Regions from separate parts of the Homo sapiens genome. Here regions 2, 3 and 4 are each reported to be linked to region 1. The links are microRNA targets in miRTarBase. Many come from high-throughput screens and were not tested one by one. Region 1 holds a microRNA gene; each other region holds the end of a gene's coding sequence.

Region 1 (3,000 bases):
CTACTGTTTTAAAAGACAACAACAAAAAAATGAAATACCCAGAAATAAATCTAACAAAATACATATGATACCTCTAAGGACTATATATATTGCTAAGCATTATCAAAGGACACAAATGAAGATTTTAATAAATGAAAGGAATATTAGGTTCACAGATAAGAACACAACATTGCAAAGATAATTCTCTTAAATTCAATCAATTAGCTATTGAAGGTTCAAGTGATTCTCCAGCCTCAGCCTCTGAGCTAGCTGGGATTACAGGCATGCACCACCACACCCATCTAATTTTGTATTTTTAGTAGAGATGGAGTTTCACCATGTTGGCCAGGATGGTGTCAATCTCCTGACCTCACGTGATCTGCCCACCTCAGCCTCCCAAAGTGCTGGGATTACAGGCGTGGGCCACCATGCCTGGCCACAAAGACAATTTTGAATAGCAAGATGAGAGAATCTCTTCACCTCCTATCAAGATGTATTATAAAGTTACAGGAGTTAAAACAGCATGGTTTGGGTGCAGGTACAAATAACACCATTAAAACAAAATAAAGAGCTCAGAAACAGATCCATGCATATGTGATAAGTTGCTGTGTGACCAAAATAGCATCATGAATCAGTAGAAAAAGGATTCAATAAACAGCCTGAGCCAACAGACTATATAGAAGAAAGATAAAATTAGATCCTCAGTTAATACCATATATAAAAATGGACTTTCGACGGGTTAAAGAAGAAAACATAGGAGATTCTCTTAGAACACTGGGATGGAAAAAAAATTTTCTTGCATCAAAAATCACATAACAGGCCGGGCAGAGTAGCTCACGGCTGTAATCCCAGCACTTTGGGAGGCCAAGGCAGGCAGATCACTTGAGGTCAGGAATTCCAGACCAGCCTGACCCAACATGGTGAAAACCCATCTCTACTAAAAATGCAAAAATTAGCCAGGTGTGGTGGCACACACCTGTAATCCCAGGTACTTGGGAGGCTGAGGCAGGAGACTCACTTGAACCTAGGAGGCAAAGGTTGTGGTGAGCTGAGATCACACCACTGCACTCCAGCCTGGAAAACAGAGTGAGCCTGTCTCAAAAAAAAAAAAAAAAAATCACATAACAAAAAATACTGAGAAATTGAGAAATTGTTTTGCATTACGATTTTTAATTTCTTTATAACAAAGACACTATAAACAAAGGAAAAAGACAAATCCCCAATTGGGAGAAGATATCTAACAGACAAGAAGAATTAATATCTAGAATATATAAACAACCAAACAGAAAACGAAACAAAACCTCCGGAAAATGTGTCTTACAAACTCACTCTTTTCTGGACATGACTGTTCTTCCTCCCTATACCACGCCCCCTGCCCCAACCAGATAGTTTTATTGATGATTATCATACCCAACCTGGCTCAATCTAGCTCCTAACCCTAGATTTCTGAATTATGAAAAAAAAAAAGATTATTTTCTTCTGTAAAGGTGGAAAGATGTAGACATAGCCTATGCCCCCTGTTTTCCCTCAATACCCAACCTCCTCCCTCACACATGAAGAGACCAGTCTTCAGCAGAACAATGAAGAGGGCATGCAGAGAAAACACACAGGTGACATTCCACATACATGCCTATTCCTTTGGCAGACTGGTTACATGAGTCAAACAATTATTTTTACTTAAGCTAGCTAGAGTTGAATTTCTGTAACTTACAACCAAGAATTTAAAGAAGTTATTTAATGAGTCTTGAGGAAAATATGTCAGAAAAAAAGGGACAGTATTCATTATTGATTAGCCCTTAAGTAAATAAATTAGCCCTTAAGAACAAAGACCGTAACACAAAAATCTGAAATCCTAATATGAACATAATTAACACAGAAATAAATTCTAACAACCTATTTTAATCTGTGGCACTTACTTAAAAGCAAGCCCACTCCAAAAAATCATGATTCAAATAGATGTATATTTGCTACACAAATGTATACTTGCTTATCTATTCTGATTGCTGAATCTTGAGAATATAGGACAAGTATGCATTCATAATGCATAAATCAACACTAAAGGTGAAAAGTAATTTTTTTCTATCAGACACCCTATAGTCATTATTATTAAAGAAGCTGCCACTTTGAATAAGATGCTGAAAATAACCAATTCTTTTGTCATTCCCAAGAGTCAATCTTTTTTTGTTGTTTATTGGGGTTCTTTTTGAGACAGAGTCTTGCTCTATCGCCCAGGCTGGAGTACAGTGACCTGATCATGACTCACTGCAGCCTTAAACTCCCAGCCAAGGGCCAACCATTATTAATCTCCTTCCACTGTGGAAATTGACCATTCAGTCTTATCACATAACCAGGTTTTAATATCTGATAGAATATCATGGCACTTCTCACTCCTTGGTTACCAAATTTCCTTTAAAAAGCTTCTTATGAAGGACTTTTAGCAAAATTCTTCTTGGAAGTCTGAATGAATTAGAACCACTTAGAGCATTTAATCTGTGTCCCTACCAATTCCCCTCAGTGTTTTTTCCAGTGTTAAAGCCAATCTAATTTGGTGAAACAAAGGTAAAGGACTTTCACCTACTGTGGGGAAGGAAAAAACAACAATTCAAATACAGCCCATCTGCTGCTCAGAGCTCCTATAGAGAGCTTCCTTAACCAACTCTGAATGAGATGGAAGTGGGACTGGGTGGGTAAAAGGGAAGGGAGAAAGAGCAGCCCTCTCTAAGAGCCACAGGCCTTGGGAAAGAGGATTATTAGGGAGCAAACTCTGTATTTCTACTTTTTATTCATCTTCTTGACGCTCAGCCACATGAACCACCAATTGCATCCTTCTGGGAACTTTCAGCAATTCAAAAAGGAGCACACACAATGGACTAAGATGGAGGCTAAAGGCTAGATTGTGGAGTACTCTTGGTCAATAAAGTTGCTTCCAGTATTAGTCTCCCAAAATTTTATTTCTTATCAATTTCAAGGAAAAGAACAAAGCCCTAATGTAAAAATTCCTTCAAAAAATGTGTGGAACAC
Region 2 (7,818 bases), not on the chromosome of region 1:
ACGACTTGAGGTTTAATTCACATGCTACACAATTCACATGTCTAAAGTGTACAATTCGATGGTTTTTAGTATATTCATAGATACGTGCAACCATCAGCATGACCAGCTTCAGGACATTCTCATCATCTCAAAAGGAAACTCTGTCTCCATCAGCAGTCACTCCCCGTTTTCCCCCAACTCCTCCAGCCCTGGGCAACAACCAATCGACTTTCCTTAGACAACGTTTTGAGCCCTTATTGGGAGGAATTATAGTCGAATGGAAAATCCAGTTTGGGACGTGGTGTAAACTGGAATTGCTTTCGTGGTTTTTCCTTGTGCCTTGGGTGGGGCACTGCCGTAAGAGCATTGCATCCATCCTTTCGTCGGTACTCTGCTGCACACGGATGGCATTTCTGCCCTTGTTACAGATGAGGAAACTGAGGCTCAGAGACATTAAGCAAGGGGCAGAGTGGGGCTTGTCCATGAGACCCCAGAGTCTGTGCTCTTGCACATACATTATCAGGCCAACATGATCTATCCATCCGAATTCCAAATAAATAAATAAAAATGCTTATAAGAAGTCCCCCCATGCTGCGGGGAGGCAGCGGCTCATGCCTGTAATCCCAACACTTAGGGAGGCACAGGTGGGAGGATTGCTTGAACCCAGGAGTTTGAGACCAGCCCAGGCAACATGACAATACCTGCATCTCTGCAAAAACGAAAAAAAAAAAAAAAAAAAAAAAAAAGACAAAAAGAAGTCCCTCCAAGTTAGTCGCCATGCTCTCTACCATGGGTTTTCTGTGTTATCCCTATCACATGCATACAGTCATTTCTACCAAGCACCATTTATGGTGACAGGGTATGGTCTACAAAAATATTGACAGAGAAATCCTGATGGAGCTCAAGACAAGCTCAGGCCACCAAGAAATGTGCACCGAGTGTAGCTGTGCCGAGCATCGTTCTAGGGCAGGGGTCCCCAACCCCCCGGCCACGGACCGATACTGGTCTGTGGCCTGTTAAGAACTGAGCCACAGAGCAGGCGGCGAGTGGTGGGCACGCGAGCGAAGCTTCATCTGTGTGTACAGCTGCTCCCCATTGCTCGCATGACCGCCTGAGCTCTGCCTCCTGTCAGATCAGCCAGCGGCCTCAGACTCTCACAGGAGCGCAAACCCTATTGTGAACTGTGTGTGCGAGGGATCTAGGTTGTGTGCTCCTTAGGAGCATCTGACTAATGCCTGATGATCTGAAGTGGAAGAGTTTCATCCCCGAACCGTCATCCCACGCCCCATCCCCGTCTGTGGAAAACTCGTCTTCCACAAAACCGGTCCCTGGTGCCAAAAAGGTTGGAGACCGCTGTTCCGGGGGATGGTGCCTGACTGAGCTGGAGGAGGCCTCTGCTCTCCCTCTGGTGGAAGGAGAGAGAAAACAAAGCAGAATAAATGAGGCCGTTTGGACTGCCAAGCTGGGAGTTAAAACAGTGCAGTGTGATTTAGGATGAGGACTTTAAGATGAAGAAGGTGATACGCTTAGAACTGTTGAAAGTTTAAACTTAGAGCTGAATGAGAAAAAGAAATCGGCCATGCAAAGATGAGGGGACAACAAGGACAAGCGCCGTGTGTTCGAGGAAGGGCCAAGAGGCCAGCGTGTGTGAGGTGCGGCCGGCATGTGGTGCGGCTGGGTGCAGCGGGCCAGCAGGAGAGGGACATAACGTGACGTCCCAGCGGCATGAGGGCTCTGCGAGCCAGGCTGAGGATGAGTTCAGGTTTCCAGGGCAACTGAAGGGCATGGCAGGGTTTCAGCAAAGGTTTACCAGATGACACTGGCTGCCATGTGGAGAGTAGATCACAGGGAGCCCACGCTCTCCAGTGTGAAAGCAGCAAGGAGGTCACTGTGATAGTGTAGGCAAAAGGTGAAGGGACTCAGGAGTTTGGATCATGAGAGGAAGAGGAATCCGTTTTGGTTTAAGCAACTGGGGATGAGGGAAAGGGCAGAGTTGGCAGGGGGTGGGGGCTAAAAGTCCATTTCTGGCTTGGACGGGCTACTGGGCTCATTTTCGTGAAGGAACAGATCAGGACTGGAAGACAGAAATCTGTCATCAGCATCAAGGCCTTGAAGATGGACGAGGTCACAAAGGGGCAGTGTCTGAGCAAGGAGAGGAAGAGAATTCGGGAGTCAGCTCGGAGACACAGGAACCAGCAAGGAGCCTGCGAAGCAGCTGCCAGGACGTGGAAGGAGAACCAAGGGGTCTGAGGAGGAGAAAATGATGGTGCTCGGAACTGCAGAACCTCTCGGCAGGCACACTGCACTCAAACCCCTGCCCGAAGACACCCGGCCACCACCTCGCGGGGCCTCTGGGAGCCTAAGGCCGCGCCCCTGGGACGCCCCAGCCCCCTTTTGAGTGAGTTCCCGTCTGGAAACGCTCAGGGCTGCCCAGAGCATGTACTGTCTGTTCCGGCCAACACCTGACCTCCCTTTCTGACAGCATTTACTACAAAGGGCTTACCCTGTCCCTTTGAGACATCTGTGTAGCACCCACAACCCAGGGGCTTTCCCGAGGGCCCCGCAGCCACTCCTTGGAAACGGAAACCTCAGGAGGCGCGGGGCCCAGTCTCCCAGTCTCCACGGGACGGAAGCATCCCAACCTTGGTAAGCACCGGCAGCTCCCACACACGGCTGGCCTCGCGGCAAGGACGCTGGCTGCCCCGTCATCTTTCACCTGAGCCTGCACTCGCCCCCTCCCGACTCCCTCCTTCTCCCTTCGCAAGGCCAGGCCGCCTCTGCTGGGGCGGGAACGGAGCTCAGCTCTCTCCCCCGCAAGCAGGGGTTTCTGAAGAAGATCTCTTTTGCCAGCTTGAACAAAGGCCCGCTTTTGTGTACCTTTGTGTATCTCCGGTGTTCTTGTCAAAAGAGGAGGACAGGCACAGAGGCCCGCGGGGACAAGGCCACAGGATGACGGAGATGGAGGCTGGAGAGGTGCAGCCGGCGGCCCCCGGCGCCGTGGAGAGGCCTGGAAGGCAGCTCCCTCGCGGCCCTGGCGGGGAGCCCACCCTGCCGACACCACCGCTAGCTCAGCCTCCAGGCCTCCAGAAGCGGGAGGCCACGCGTTTCTGTGGCTTCGGCCCCGCAGTCTGTGGTGCTTGGTCACGGCAGCCCCAGGAGACACAGTCAGCCCCTGCCCCGTGCCTTGCTGAGAGGCTGTGTCAACAGCGGGCTCTTCCCTGCCACTGGCACAGAAGAAAACCAAGCTGCGTTACCACCCGAGCGACTGTGTGGGAAGACGTATTCTCTGTGTATCAAAGGAATGCGTGCAAATGATAGGCATTTAGGAAAGGTACTAACATGTAAGGAAAACTTCTCATTACTGGCCACCCAGCTACTCACGTCCGTCCAAATGTTAGCAGGGTATGCACTCAGAGCTTTTACTTCTCTATTGGGGTCACGCTTTATCCATAAGTTTGTCACCTGGCCTGTTCACACCAACATGCTACAAGGCATGTTGCGTGTGAGGAGATGTTCAAAATGCCAGCTGTGCCGGACCACATCGTTACATACGCAGCCTCTTATCTCACCCCGACCTTTGGCAGCTACAAATGACGAAGTGAAGCACCTTCCCAATGCCAGAGTCATCGCTGAGTGCCCGACTCTCTCTTAGGGTTACGCACCAGGGCTGAGGACGCTGCCTACGGGCTTGCTCCATCCCAGCAAATGGCCCCCTCGGAAAGGGCAGCATTGCAAGGGCCGCTGTCCTGCACCTTGCCAGCAGAGCGCTCACCTAGGGCTTCATCGGTTGCCATTTTCAGATCACTTTTTGCTTGCCGTCAGACTTGCTGTTGTTTTAGTTACTGATGAGGGTGAAATGCTTTCTCACTGTGCTTACTGGTCGCCCGCACTGTTCTTGTGCATTGGTCGGCAGGAGGGGGAGCGCGCATGAACACCAGAGAACGCCACAAGCTCCGGCAGGGATGGGCTTCGTTTGTGGATCAAGGGGCCGCAGCCAATAGGGCAGGCAGGCTGGTTCCCTCCCAAGAGTAATCCAACCAGTTGTTCTGGAAGCTCAACCTAAGTAAAGCCGAAAAGGAAAACCCTGGAATGCCGTACTTCTGCGCAAATGGTATGGTTTTAAATCCTTGGTGTCTGGTGTATGGTCAACCCTACACTGTGCTACCGGAGGAGGGAGGAGGCAGCCCCACCTCCGGGCAGGGCGGTGGGTCTAGACCAATGCCTGGTGGGTCTAGACCAAGATTCTGACTCGGTTGGTCCAGGGGGCCCAAGCAGGGGTGTTTTTCCAGCTCCCAGGCACTGCTGCTGCATTTGCCCTCATCTGTGTGCACTGGAACATGTCCCCATACTGGGTTGTGTGATGGCCCTGAAGAGATACGTGCATATCTTATGGGTGTGACCTTCTTTGGGAAAAGGGTCTTTGCAGATGTAATGAATGCCGAGATGAGGAGATCATTCTGGATTATCCAGGTGGGCCCTACATCCAATGACTGGTGTCCTTTATGAGACAAAAGGGAAGACACAGACGAAGAGGAAGAGACTGTGTGATGACAGAGGCAGAGACTAGGGTGATGGCTCTATAAGCAACCAGCAGAGGCTAAGACAGAGACCTGTAAACGATTCTCTTGGCACCTGCAGAGGAAACCAGCCTTGCCGGACATAGTGGCGGGCACTTGTAATCCCAGATACTCGGGAGGCTGAGGCACAAGAATTGCTTGAACCCTGGAGGCGGAAGTTGCAGTGAACTGAGATGGCACCACTGCACTCCAGCCTGGGTGTCAGAGCAAGACTGTATCCAACAAGAAAGAAAGAGAGAAAGAGAGAGAGGAGAGAGAGAGGGAGAGAGAGAGGGAGAAAGAAAAGAAAGAAAAAAGAAAGAAAGAAAGAAAGAGAAAGAGAAAGAAAAAGAAAGAAAGAGAAAGAAAGAAAGAAAGAAAGAGAAAGAAAGAAAGAAAGAGAAAGAAAAAAGAAACCAGCCTTGCTGACAACTTGATTGCAGACTGTGGCTTCCAACACTGTGAAGGAGTTTCTGTTGTTTTAAGCCCCAAGTGTGCAGTCCTTTGTTACAGCAGCCACCGTCTACTCATACACCCTCCCTCCAAAAAAAAAATGTAAAGTGCTCTTGTAGAAAAATTGCAAGATTAGGATTTAAGTGCAGCACCCGTGAGCAGACAAGCTGTCTGTGCCTTTCACATTTTCCCAAGTAGAATCTGATGGGCACCTGGCTTGAAGAAGGGGAAAGGTCACTCCCCGCCCCCACACCCCGCCCCCAGATGCTGAGAAAGCCCTCAGGCCAGGTTAATTTTTAGAAGGCCTCATATCCCAATTCTAGCCAGCCTCACACTGTCAAATAGCAGGAAGCCCTGTGAGGAAGCCTCAGGGTGGATTCACAATATCCCGTTCCCAACCAGGGCAGCTTGGAGGAGGGCAGGAAGGAAGGCCCGGGTGCTGGGGAGTCAACTTCCAACTTTGTTTCCTTTGCTACAATTGCAGGGTTAATGCCCAGGGCTCTGACACCCCGGGAAATTTCCAGAATCTTGCAAAACAAGTAGAGTCGTCTGTTCTTCCTAATTGGGGCCAGTGTGGGAAATGGCATCACAAACTTCTGGAATATGATGAAACAGCCATCACCAGTCACACTGGGCAACAACACTCTTGGTGAAGACAAGAGCACGCTTCGGTGTTAGAAAAAGAAAAGTGCTCATGTGTGAAGCATCCCTCCCACAGACCACAAGGTGGTCACGACGACTCCAAAGTCAAAGCAGTAAAAGGGGGAAAAAATGGATAAATGTGACTACATAAAGAAAAAAAAACTTCGAGGCTGAGAAGCACCAGTAGTTTAGCAGGGTGTGGTGGCGCACGCCTGTGATCCCAGCTACTCGCAAGGCCGAGGCAGGAGGACTGCTGGAGCTCAGGAGGTCAAGGCTGCAGTGAGCTCTGATTGTGCCACTACACTCCCACCCGGGTGACAGAGACCTTATCTCAAAACAAAAAACAAAGAAACACTAGTAGCGAGGTCAAAGCAGGAAAAGATATCTGCAATTTCTATCACAGCCACAAACCCAATCCTGCTCATGGACAAAGAGTTTCTAAAAGCTGAGCAACAAAAGATAACCCAGTAGAAAAACGGATAAAAGATATGAGCAGCCCAGCGGGGCGCAGTGGCTCACACCTGTAATCCTAGCACTTTGGGAGGCCGAGGCAGGCAGATCACCTGAGGTCAGGAGTTTGAGACCAGCCTGGCCAAAGTGCTGAAACCCCCATCTCTACTAAAAATACAAAAATTGGCCAGGTACAGTGGCTCACACCTGTAATCCCAGCACTTTGGGAGGCCAAGGCAGGTGGATCACGTGAGGTCAGGAGTTCGAGACCAGCCTGGCCAACATGGTGAAACCCCATCTCTACTAAAAATACAAAAATTAGCCGAGCGTGGTGGCAGGCGCCTGTAGTCCCAGCTACTAGGGAGGCTGAGGCAGGAGAATAGGTTGAACGCAGGAGGCAGAGGTTGCAGTGAGCTGAGATCACGCCACTGCACTCCAGTCTGGGCGAGAAGAGCAAAACTCTGTCTCAAAAAAAAAAAAAAATACACACACACACACACACACACACATACATATACACAACTATACATATACATATATATATATGATATGAGCAGCCCATTCAGAAGCAGAACTAAAAAAGGTCCTTAAAGCCTCAGGAAAGATGTTTAAGCTCACTCTTAACAGAGAACTGCATGGCCTAGCGAATGACAAAAACCCAAACGGGCTTTCCCACCTCCTCCTTGGCAAGGCTAGGGAAATAGGGGGTGGGGAGAGATGGGAAACCAAGCTCCAAGGAGGAAGGGGGCTCAGGTACCATCTACGCCATCGCCCATGCTCAGTGGTGTCACTTCTCAGAATCTATGCCAAAGATACGCACGACTAATGCACAAGGATTTTTACTATGCCATTATTTATGGTAACAAAAAGATGGGAAACAACCCAAATGTCCATCAATAGTGACTGGTTAAATACACATCGGTCTGGCTGCAAAATGGAATAGCATGCAGCCCAAAAGGAGAGCACCCGTGTGCATGGTAAGAGGGCAGCACTCCCAGGGCACAGCGGCGGGCGGGTCGGTGTCCGGTGGGAGGAAGAGCGGCCACCCAGCTCTGCCAGGGGAAGCAGTTCTCCCTGAGAGCCCCAGGCCCCATTCTTGACTTCCCCAGTGCCGGGTGGAGGAAGAGGGAGGGATTAGCCCGAGGCAAGTGGTTCGAGCAGACAGAAGGGAACAAAAAGAGCAGCGAGTCAGGCCTGATCGGGGCCGCATCTACCCCAAAAGAGGGGACCAGCGGATCAACAGCTGAAGCGTAAGGTGCCGCGGCCAGCTCCTGGGTGGGGCTCCAGGTGGCATCCCAGTTGTGGCCACCCAGCCCTTCATCCTGGGCTAGGCAGGCGGGAGAGGAAAGCGCAGACTGCACGGTCCCGGGCACGTCCTCGGCAGGCAGTGGCCTTGCACTGGCCGGCCCTACTCAATGCACTCCATGACATGTATCTGCAGGGTGTCCATATCAGGGGCCTGATACTGGCACTTGGGACAGCAGAAGTCAGGTGGCTCCTCGGGGGGGCTCCTCCTCTGGCTGGGCAGGGCCAGGGGAGAGGAGAGGTAGGCTGGGAAAAGAGAAGAGTCAGAGGGAAGGGGAGGATGGAGGGGGACGGAGACTTGGCAGGACTGTCAATGGCAGGCCTGGTCTCACAGGCCACTCATGTAAGACCAGGAGCCGCCGCTACCACGGCATGCCTCCCTTAGCCTCGGGGAAGGGGGTGGGCTACCGATGGGGTGGCCTACACGAGCTCC
Region 3 (6,963 bases), not on the chromosome of region 1:
AGACCAAATGTGGTACATGCATCCTAAAATATTTACTAGCTGGCTCTTCATGGAAAAACTGGCCCAGCCTTCCCTTAGCCTCTTCCTCCCTTCTGAGGAGACTAACCTGTTTCTTCCCAAAGCAGGATCCGAGCCAGGAGACACTGAGCCTTTGGAGTTAGGAGGTCCTGGAGCAGGTGAGGATGGAGCCGGGGCTACGGTGGGAAGCCTGGTGGGGTCTCAGGAAATCCTTTGCAAAGAACTGGGGTTGGTTCCTCTGTTTCACCTGCGGTGATTCCTTTGCTCCCCCAAACTCCCAACAGAACCTGAACAGAAAGAACAATCGACAGGACAGAAGCGGCCTTTGAAGAACGACGAACTATAACCCCCACCTCTGTTTTCCCCATTCATCTCCACCCCCTTCCCCCACCACTTCTATTTATTTAACATCGAGGGTTGGGGGAGGGGTTGGTCCTGCCCTCGGCTGGAGTTCCTTTCTCACCCCTGTGATTTGGAGGTGTGGAGAAGGGGAAGGGAGGGACAGCTCACTGGTTCCTTCTGCAGTACCTCTGTGGTTAAAAATGGAAACTGTTCTCCTCCCCAGCCCCACTCCCTGTTCCCTACCCATATAGGCCCTAAATTTGGGAAAAATCACTATTAATTTCTGAATCCTTTGCCTGTGGGTAGGAAGAGAATGGCTGCCAGTGGCTGATGGGTCCCGGTGATGGGAAGGGTATCAGGTTGCTGGGGAGTTTCCACTCTTCTCTGGTGATTGTTCCTTCCCTCCCTTCCTCTCCCACCATGCGATGAGCATCCTTTCAGGCCAGTGTCTGCAGAGCCTCAGTTACCAGGTTTGGTTTCTGAGTGCCTATCTGTGCTCTTTCCTCCCTCTGCGGGCTTCTCTTGCTCTGAGCCTCCCTTCCCCATTCCCATCCAGCTCCTTTCCCCCTGGGTTTCCTTGGCTTCCTGCAGCAAATTGGGCAGTTCTCTGCCCCTTGCCTAAAAGCCTGTACCTCTGGATTGGCGGAAGTAAATCTGGAAGGATTCTCACTCGTATTTCCCACCCCTAGTGGCCAGAGGAGGGAGGGGCACAGTGAAGAAGGGAGCCCACCACCTCTCCGAAGAGGAAAGCCACGTAGAGTGGTTGGCATGGGGTGCCAGCATCGTGCAAGCTCTGTCATAATCTGCATCTTCCCAGCAGCCTGGTACCCCAGGTTCCTGTAACTCCCTGCCTCCTCCTCTCTTCTGCTGTTCTGCTCCTCCCAGACAGAGCCTTTCCCTCACCCCCTGACCCCCTGGGCTGACCAAAATGTGCTTTCTACTGTGAGTCCCTATCCCAAGATCCTGGGGAAAGGAGAGACCATGGTGTGAATGTAGAGATGCCACCTCCCTCTCTCTGAGGCAGGCCTGTGGATGAAGGAGGAGGGTCAGGGCTGGCCTTCCTCTGTGCATCACTCTGCTAGGTTGGGGGCCCCCGACCCACCATACCTACGCCTAGGGAGCCCGTCCTCCAGTATTCCGTCTGTAGCAGGAGCTAGGGCTGCTGCCTCAGCTCCAAGACAAGAATGAACCTGGCTGTGTCAGTCATTTTGTCTTTTCCTTTTTTTTTTTTTTTTGCCACATTGGCAGAGATGGGACCTAAGGGTCCCACCCCTCACCCCACCCCCACCTCTTCTGTATGTTTGAATTCTTTCAGTAGCTGTTGATGCTGGTTGGACAGGTTTGAGTCAAATTGTACTTTGCTCCATTGTTAATTGAGAAACTGTTTCAATAAAATATTCTTTTCTACAGTTTTTGTGCTGTGAGTTTTTAAAAATAGAAAAATTTTGGGCCAGGCATGGTGGCTCATACCTGTCATCTTAACATTTTGGGAGGCCAAGATGGGAGGATAGCTTGAGGTCGGACCAGCCTGGGCAACAGCAAGACTCTGTCTCAAAAAAAAAAAAAAAAAGTATCTGAGTGTGGGGATGTGTGCCTGTAGACCCAGCTACTTGGGAGACTGAGGCTGGAGGGTGGGTCCCTTGGGCCCAGGACTTCGAGGCTTCAGTGAGCTATGATCGTGCCACTGCACTCCAGCATGTGTGACAGTGAAAACCTCAAAAAGTTTGAATAATTACATCATCAAAATGTTATTGACACTTTGGACTTAGTTGAGATTTGTATATGTATTTTTTTCAAGGAAACAAAATACTGGTTTTATTTTACTGCTAACATTATTTGGACTCCTATATCCCAGGCATTTTTAAGTAACGTACTTTTTTTTTTTTTTTTTCTTTGAGACTGGGTCCTGCTCTGTTGCCCAGGCTGGAGTATAGTAATGCGATCCAGGCTCACTGCAACCTCCGCCTCCCGGGTTCAAGTGATTCTACTGCCCCAGCCTCCTGAGTAGCTGGGATTACAGGCACCTGCCACCATACCCAGCTAAATTTTTTTTGTATTTTAGTAGAGACGGGGTTTCACCATGTTGGCTAAGCTGGTCTGGAACTGACCTGAAGCGATCCACCTGCCTTGGGCTCCCAAAGTGCTGGGTTTACAGGCCTGAGCCACTGGGCCCAGCTGGTAACATTAATTTTTAAAATAGCAACCTCATTGTACAAATAAGATACCAGTTCATAGAGATTTAGCAAGTAATTGGTCCAAGGAATGAATCAATGTTGAGTGCTTCAGCTAGGTTTGAGCTTAATTCTGACCATTCGCCCTTGTTCTTCGTACTTAGCCGTGGGAATGTGTTGGTAGAGACCATTTGTAGCAGTTTCGGTTCATCAGTTTGGGATGCAGCATGCCTAGCCCAAATTTTCTATTACCAAGGGAGGATCCCTCTTGTCACTAATCATGTACATATCTAAGCAGTTGTATACGGTATACAGGGTGTTGCTCTGTCACCCAGGCTGGAGTGCAATGGTGCCATCTTGGCCCACTGCAGCCGCGACCTCCCAGGCTCAAGCAATCCTCCCACCTCAGCCCTGTAGCAGGGACTACCTGGCTAATTTTTGTATTTTCTGGTCGAGACGGGGTTTCACTATGTTGCTCAGGCTGGTCTTGAACTCCTGGACTCAAATGATCTGCTTGCCTTGGCCTCCCAAAGTGCTGGGATTACAGGTATGAGCCACTGAGCTTGGCCCCGTTGTATTTACATTTAATAACCATGAAGGCCCAGCCGGGTGTAGTAGCTCACGCCTGTAGTCCTAGCACTTTGGGAGGCCAAGGCAGGCGGATCATGAGGTCAGGAGATCCGAGACCATCCTGGCTAACACAGTGAAACTCCGTCTCTACTAAAAATACAAAAAATCAGCCGGACATGGTGGCACCCGCCTGTAGTCCCAGCTACTCAGGAGGCTGAGACAGGAAAATCAATTGAACCCGGGAGGATGAGGTTGCAGTGAGCTGAGATCGTGCCACTGCACTCCAGCCTGGGCGACAGCTAGACTCTGTCACACACAAAAAAAATAACCACGAAGGGTTGTCTTTTTTCTCTAAAAGTTGAACAAGTCAGATAAGTTTTGAATGTGGAAGTTTTGGGTTTTTGTTTTTTTTTTTTTGGATGACTTTTAGACAGTTTCAGATTCACAGCAGAATTGAGCAGGAGGTACAGAGTTGCCATATACCTCCTGTCCCCACATACTCAATCTCCCCCAGAGTGGTACATTTGTTACAATCACCCAAAGTTCTGTATGACACCATAATGGTGGGTACATATACATTTGTCAAAACCTATAGAATGTGCAACACCAAGACAACTGAAAGTGTAGACTTTGGGCAAATATGATGAGTCAGTGTAGGTTCCTCAGATGTAACACCTGTAGACCTCTGGTGTGAAGTGTTTATTATGGGGGAAGCTGTGAGTGTATGGAGGAAGGGAATATACGGGAACTCTGTATTTTCCCCTCAATTTTGCTGTGAACCTAAAAGTGCTCTAAAAAAAAAAGGCGAAGCTAAGTGCAGTGACTCATGGCTGTAATACCAGTGTTTGGGGAGGCAGGAGTGGAAGGATCGCTTGAGGCCAGGAGTTTGAGACAACATAGCCAGACCTCATCTCTACAAAAAATAGTAGTCCTAGCTACTCAGGAGGCAGAGGCAGGAGGATCACTTGAAACTAGGAGTTCAAAGCTGCAGTAGATTATGATCGCACCACTGCACTGCAGCCTGGGAGGGAGAGACCCCGACTCAAAAAAAAAAAAAAAAGGCCCGGCGCGCCTTGCCTCAAGCCTGTAATCCCAACACTTTGGGCGGCCGAGGCAGGCGGATCACCTGAAGTCAACAGTTTGAGACCAGCCTGGGCGACAAGAGCGAAACTCTGTCTCAAAAAAAAAAAGGGTGGGGAGGTGGGGGGCAGGCACGGTGGCTCGGGCTAGTAATCCCAGCACCTTGGGAGGCTGAGGCAGGCAGATCACAAGGTCAGAAGTTTGAGACTAGCCTGGCTAACACAGTGAAACCCTGTCTGTACTAAAAATACAAAAATTAGCTTGGCGTGGTGGTGGGCACCTGTAATCCCAGCTACTCAGGAGGCCGAGGAAGGAGAATCACTTGAACCCAGGAGACAGAGGTTGCAGTGCGCCAAGACTGGGCCACGGCACTCCAACCTGGCAACAGAGCAAGACTCCGTCTCAAAAAAAAAAAAAAAAAAAAAAAAAAATCGGGACTAGATGGCTTCACTGGTGAATTCTACCAAATATTTTTAAAATATTTATTTTGGCCAGGGATGGTGGCTCACATCTGTAATCCTAGCACTTTGGGAAGCCGAGGTGAGTGGATTGCCTGAGCTCTGAAGTTTGAGACCACCCTGGGCAACATGGCGAAACACCATGTCTACTAAAATACAAAAAATTAGCCGGGTGTGGTGGTGTGTGCCCGTAGTCCCAGCTACTTAGGAGGCTGAGGCTTGAGAATTACTTGAACCCAGGAGGCAGAAGTTGCAGTGAGCTGAGGTCATGCCACTGCACTCCAGCCTGGGCAACAGAGCGAGACTCTGCCTCAAAAATAAAAATAAAAAATAGCCAGGCCCGGCCGGGCGCAGTGGCTCACACCTGTAATCCCAGCACTTTGGGAGGCCGAGGCGGGCGGATCACCTGAAGTCAGCAGTTCGAGACCAGCCTGGCCAACATGGTGAAACCCAGTCTCTACTAAAAAATACAAAAATTAGCCGGGCTTGGTGGCAGGCGATTTAATCCCAGCTATTTGGGAAGCAGAGGCAGGAGAATCATTTGAACCTGGGAGGCAGAGGTTGCAGTGAGTGGAGATCAAGCCATTGCACTCAAACCTGGGGGATAAGAGCAAGACTTCTCTCAAAAAAAACAAATAGCCAGGCCCAGTGGCTCACGCCTGTAATCCCAGTCAGGATACCTCAGGTCAAGACCAGCCTGGCCAACATGGCAAAACCCCATTTCTACTAAAAATACAAAAAATAGCTGGGCGTAGTGGGGCTGGGCGCAGTGGCTCATGCCTGAAATCCTAGCACTTTGGGAGGCCGAGGCAGGCAGATCACCAGGTCAGGAGATCGAGACCATCCTGTCTAACACGGTGAAACCCCATCTCTACTAAAAATACAAAAAAATTAGCCGGGCATGGTGGCAGGTGCCTGTAGTCCCAGCTACTTGGGAAGGTGAGGCAGGAGAATGGCATGAACTCGGGAGGCGGAGCTTGCAGCAAGCGGAGATCACTCACTGCACTCCAGCCTGGGTGACAGAGCAAGACTCCATCTCAAAAAAAAAAAAAAAATCCTCCTGCCTGTGCCTCCCAGTGTTGGGATTACAAGCATGAGCCATCCTGTTCAGCCAGGGGCTAATTTTGAAACAAGCCAGGAATAAAGACCCAGCTACCTGTGGGGAAAAGAAAGAGAGATCAGATTGGTAATGTGTCTGTATAGAAAGTAGACATAAGAGACTCCATTTTAATCTGTAACCCCACCCCCAACCCTGTGCTCCCTGAGACATGTGCTGTGTCAACTCAGGGTTAAATGGATTAAGGGCTGTGCAAGATGTGCTTTGCTAAACAAATGCTTGAAGGAATCTCAAGTACCCAGGGACACAAAACACTGCGGAAGGCCGCAGGGACCCCTGCCTAGGAAAGCCAGGTACTGTCCAAGGTTTCTCCCCATGTGATAGCCTGAGATATGGCCTCGTGGGAAGGGAAAGACCTGACCGTCCCCCAGCCCGACACCCGTAAAGGGTCTGTGCTGAGGAGGATTAGTAAAAGAGGAAGGAACGCCTCGTTGCAGTTGAGACAAGAGGAAGGCATCTGTCTCCTGCTCGTCCCTGGGCAATGGAATGTCTCGATGTAAAACCCGATTGTATATTCCATCTACTGAGATAGGGGGAAACTGCCTTAGGGCTGCAGGTGGGACATGCGGGCAGCAATACTGCTCTGTAAGGCATTGAGATGTTTATGTGTATACATATCTAAAGCACAGCACTTAATTCTTTACCTTGTTTATGATGCAGAGAACTTTGTTCACGTGTTTACCTGCTGACCTTCTCTCCACTATTATCTTATGATCCTGCCACATCCCCCTCTCCGAGAAACACCCAATAATGATCAATAAATACTAAGGGAACTCAGAGGCCGGCGGGATCCTCCATATGCTGAGCGCCGGTCCCCTGGTCCCCCGATTTCTTTCTCTGTACTTTGTCTGTGTCTCTTTCTTTTCCAAGTCTCTCGTTCCACCTAACAAGGAACACCCACAGGTGTGGAGGAGCAACCCACCCCTTCAGCTACCGAATCCTCCTGTTTAGGGGGAGTCACGACCAATTAATCCAAAACCACCAGGTAGAAGTCAAGATGATGCCAACTGGGCTTCCAGACAAGAAATTACTCAAGAGAGCTATCGGAACAAGACACATAGATACCCTCCTGTACCACTCCCATATGTTTCCCATGCCAAGTTTTTCTTATGAAATCTCTTCACTGAGCCCAAAAAGCTGGAACAGTCTTTTAAAGGCATGAGTCTGGCCATATCTCAACTGTTAGCATTTGATTAATAAAACTGCT
Region 4 (3,000 bases), not on the chromosome of region 1:
TGCAGATAACTATGACAACTTTGTCCTACCAGAGTTGCCATCTGTGCCAGACACACTACCAACTGCATCTGCTGGTGCCAGCACCTCAGCATCTGAAGACATTGACTTTGATGATCTTTCCCGGAGGTTTGAAGAGCTGAAAAAGAAAACATAGGTCTCTTAAACCAGGCAACTTTCACGTTTTGGGAGTTGAGACTGAGCAATTTCTCCTTGTAACAAAGAATCTCCATGAAATTCTGTTTCATCTGTTAACCGTCACTCAGCACAACACTCCCTCTGGGCTCTCTTCCTGCTCCTCCAGATTCTGCTGCTTTCCAGTTCTCTGTTGATCCTGAGACTAACAATTGGAGACTGAGGCCAGAGCAACTGGCTCCTGGCAGCTGTGCTTGTCCGTTTCCTGTCAGAGTGATCCCAGGTTTCCTCCTGGCCCGTCCCATGGTCCCTCCACAGGAGTGTGAGAGGATGGGGGAAGCACTGTGGGAAGACCACCAAAGATGGCTGGACAGTGGGAGAGAGCACGTTGTGAAGCATCCCAGCCTCGTGTTGAGGTTCCAGACTTAGAAACAGACCCCTCTGTACAGGGGGATTGTGGTGAGTGAGAATCAAGGCCACCTTGTGTGTTTTCTCACTCTCGAATGCAAGTGGGAGAGGGAAAATGACTCGGGACGCCATTGTAACGGTTCCTGGAAGCTGGGCCCTCTCATTGGCATATACAGTACTCCTCGCTGCAGGGCACTGTCCCACCGGGATCCAGTTGCAAAGTTTGTCTTGACAGTTGAAGGCCTCGCTTAGTTGTACTGGATTCTCAGGGAGCCCTCTGTGGCCTTTTGCTTTGCGTGCTGTTTCCCTTGTACCAGAGGGCGGCACCGTGGAAATTCTGTTTTCCCTGTAGCATATTGTGTTGGATTGCATTACTGGCAGAGAAAGGACAAGGTGCCATTCAAGTCCTAGGGTGGGCTTCCAGCTGCCTTAATAGAAGTACTCAAGTCTTTTGGGTAGTGAGCTGGAAAGCCTACAGGAAAAGAGGGGTACCTGTTTTCATTTGAAAACTTTGATTCATGGAACCTTTAAAACTAATCTCAGAAAAATTTTTGGTGCCCATGCAGCTGTAGTTGTTCACTGCTTTCCTGGATGGATGGGACTCTTATGTCATAACTTCTGTTACTCCTTTGGCCCATAGCTAAGGTCATCCTTCCCCACAGGGGTGGCTTTGGGATTGGATGATACAGCTTTTGCTTCTGTGTAGTATACCTGTACATACTTGTTTCAGGCAGCCTTTCTTTAATGTTTTCAGTTGGTTTGTATTCTGTAGCTCAGTAGCTGCTAATAAAGTTAAAGATCCTGTGTCCTGCTTTCTCTACTGTTTGGTCAGATGATGAAGTATAAATCTGGATTTTAGTGGAGAATATTTTAACCAAGTGATCCATGTAAACCAGCCCTTAGTTTCAGGATTCCTGGAGCAGTACAGAGCTCATTTTGATCTCTGTATTTAGATAGCCCAGATAGCATCTGTGAATTTCCTTGGTCTTCCTCAGTGGCAGGGCTCCGCATCTGCCATGCCTCATCCTTGGATGTTTATTTTTAGTAAGTTGCAGTGAGCTCACTTCTGACTGCTTCATTTCCCGCAGCCATCCTGGGCCATGGGTGGTGAGTTCTGTTACTTGCTGCTTGGCAGCAGAGCTAGTTTGTCTCGTAGTATTCTTGCATTGTTAATCCTATCTTGACAGTGCCAAGATCCATAAGAACTTGGGACCAAGGGGATTTTGATTCCTAACTTACAGAATTAAAAACAAAGTATATTATAATTTTAAAGCTATGCCATGCAAAGATAAGTAGTAATACGCTAATAAATACTAAGCCAAGTAGGAGATAACAGGATTAAGGTAGTTCATCTAAAACTTCAGTGTCACTGCCCACTGCTGTCGTGGCTGCTTGCTCAGATGAGGTTTTTTGGGGCCAACTGATTCCTAACAAATTTGAGAGCTTCTGTAGCAGTGTATCTATTAGTGCAGCTTCTTTCTGAGTATTGAAGACAAAAAGAGAAAAGTGAGAAAATTGAAATTACTGCTAATAGTGGAGTAAAAAAAGTACCAAAGATTTTTAAAAAATTAGTAAATGTAAAGATACTATTTCTTTAATAATTTGCAGTCAGGCATTGGAGTGTTTCCACTAATGGTTGCGAGCCAACTATTTATAGGACAATGGCTATAGAATATTATGTAGTCTTATAAATTGGGTTTCCTAGGAAGATAGCTGGCAGAGCTTTTGAAACTAATAAAGGGAATATGATACTGTGCATTATAAATTATGTCAGCCCGTCATCTTAGGGGCAGTTACAGTGGAGCTTTCCCAGTGATATAACAGCATGCTAGTTTATCTTTTAGTTACCTACCTTAAGCGACTTTCTTTCTTTTCCAAAGGCCATGAGAATGGCCGAAACGAAAAGATTAATTACCACAAGTACCATCAAGATGACACTGGTGAGGATCAGAAAGGTGCCCAGGACTGGGTCTAAAGCGAAAACCTGGGAAAACAATAAGAACACTTGCAGTGACTGACAATTTAGTTTATACTTTACAAACATAAGCTATATGCTAGTGTTTGGGATCTTATCAGAAGAAAAGCTTATCCGAAGGAAACTTAGGGAGAGAGTCAAAAGATAATAAGAAGGAAAATACTTTTAAATGGACAGAAGAGCAGGAATGACTCATTTTAAGGAGGTTAAGATAATTGTGACTGCAGGGCTTTCACAAGAAAACAGGTGAGTTGCAGTGGAATTGGAAATGATTCAAATGTCACATGAGTTTTGGCAAAAAATACATCTAATCATGGAAGCTAAAAGTGGGAGGGGGGTAAGCAAACACTGAAAGATTAAATGCATACCAGAAATGAGAATGCACACTGTCTCTGCCATATCAAGAAACTACAACCCTAAACACAGGAGCATTCCAATAAAAGTTAACAGGTTGGCCACAGAAAACTGGCTTTTTAGTATTTTTT

The links. Region 1 holds the annotated microRNA hsa-miR-6133 (UGAGGGAGGAGGUUGGGUA, at 1,511-1,529, opposite strand). A microRNA usually pairs through its seed, bases 2 to 8, with sites in the 3' UTR of a target mRNA and lowers its output. Matches are read on the target gene's strand: a 7mer-m8 pairs with bases 2 to 8, a 7mer-A1 pairs with bases 2 to 7 and ends in A, and an 8mer does both.
Region 2: miRTarBase lists IKBKG as a target of hsa-miR-6133. Seed matches in the 3' UTR shown: 7mer-m8 at 7,205-7,211.
Region 3: miRTarBase lists HYOU1 as a target of hsa-miR-6133. Seed matches in the 3' UTR shown: 7mer-m8 at 864-870, 7mer-A1 at 1,256-1,262 and 7mer-m8 at 1,366-1,372.
Region 4: miRTarBase lists IST1 as a target of hsa-miR-6133. Seed matches in the 3' UTR shown: 7mer-m8 at 271-277.

What each region holds. Positions count from the first base shown.
Region 1 is chr7:133,289,480-133,292,479 of GRCh38, reverse strand. It overlaps MIR6133 (microRNA 6133), which reads right to left and starts at 1,599; the gene lies at 1,492-1,599. All of the region lies in intron 3 of EXOC4 (exocyst complex component 4), which reads right to left.
Region 2 is chrX:154,564,132-154,571,949 of GRCh38, reverse strand. IKBKG (inhibitor of nuclear factor kappa B kinase regulatory subunit gamma) reads right to left here. Exons shown (of 10, transcript NM_001099857.5): 10 at 6,917-7,631. The coding sequence ends at 7,489. It overlaps FAM223A (family with sequence similarity 223 member A), which reads right to left and starts at 702. Exons shown (of 1, transcript NR_027401.2): 1 at 1-702. RefSeq lists enhancers at 1,381-2,180, 6,949-7,448, 7,449-7,818.
Region 3 is chr11:119,038,994-119,045,956 of GRCh38, reverse strand. HYOU1 (hypoxia up-regulated 1) reads left to right here. Exons shown (of 26, transcript NM_006389.5): 25 at 126-176; 26 at 303-1,769. The coding sequence ends at 364. HYOU1-AS1 (HYOU1 antisense RNA 1) reads right to left here and starts at 1,769. Exons shown (of 2, transcript NR_186315.1): 1 at 1,212-1,769; 2 at 464-572.
Region 4 is chr16:71,927,660-71,930,659 of GRCh38, forward strand. IST1 (IST1 factor associated with ESCRT-III) reads left to right here. Exons shown (of 10, transcript NM_001270975.2): 10 at 1-3,000. The coding sequence ends at 154. It overlaps PKD1L3 (polycystin 1 like 3, transient receptor potential channel interacting), which reads right to left. Exons shown (of 30, transcript NM_181536.2): 29 at 2,393-2,524; 30 at 1,879-2,019. The coding sequence ends at 1,879. Among named protein-coding and RNA genes, the nearest start is that of IST1, 34 kb to the left of the region's middle.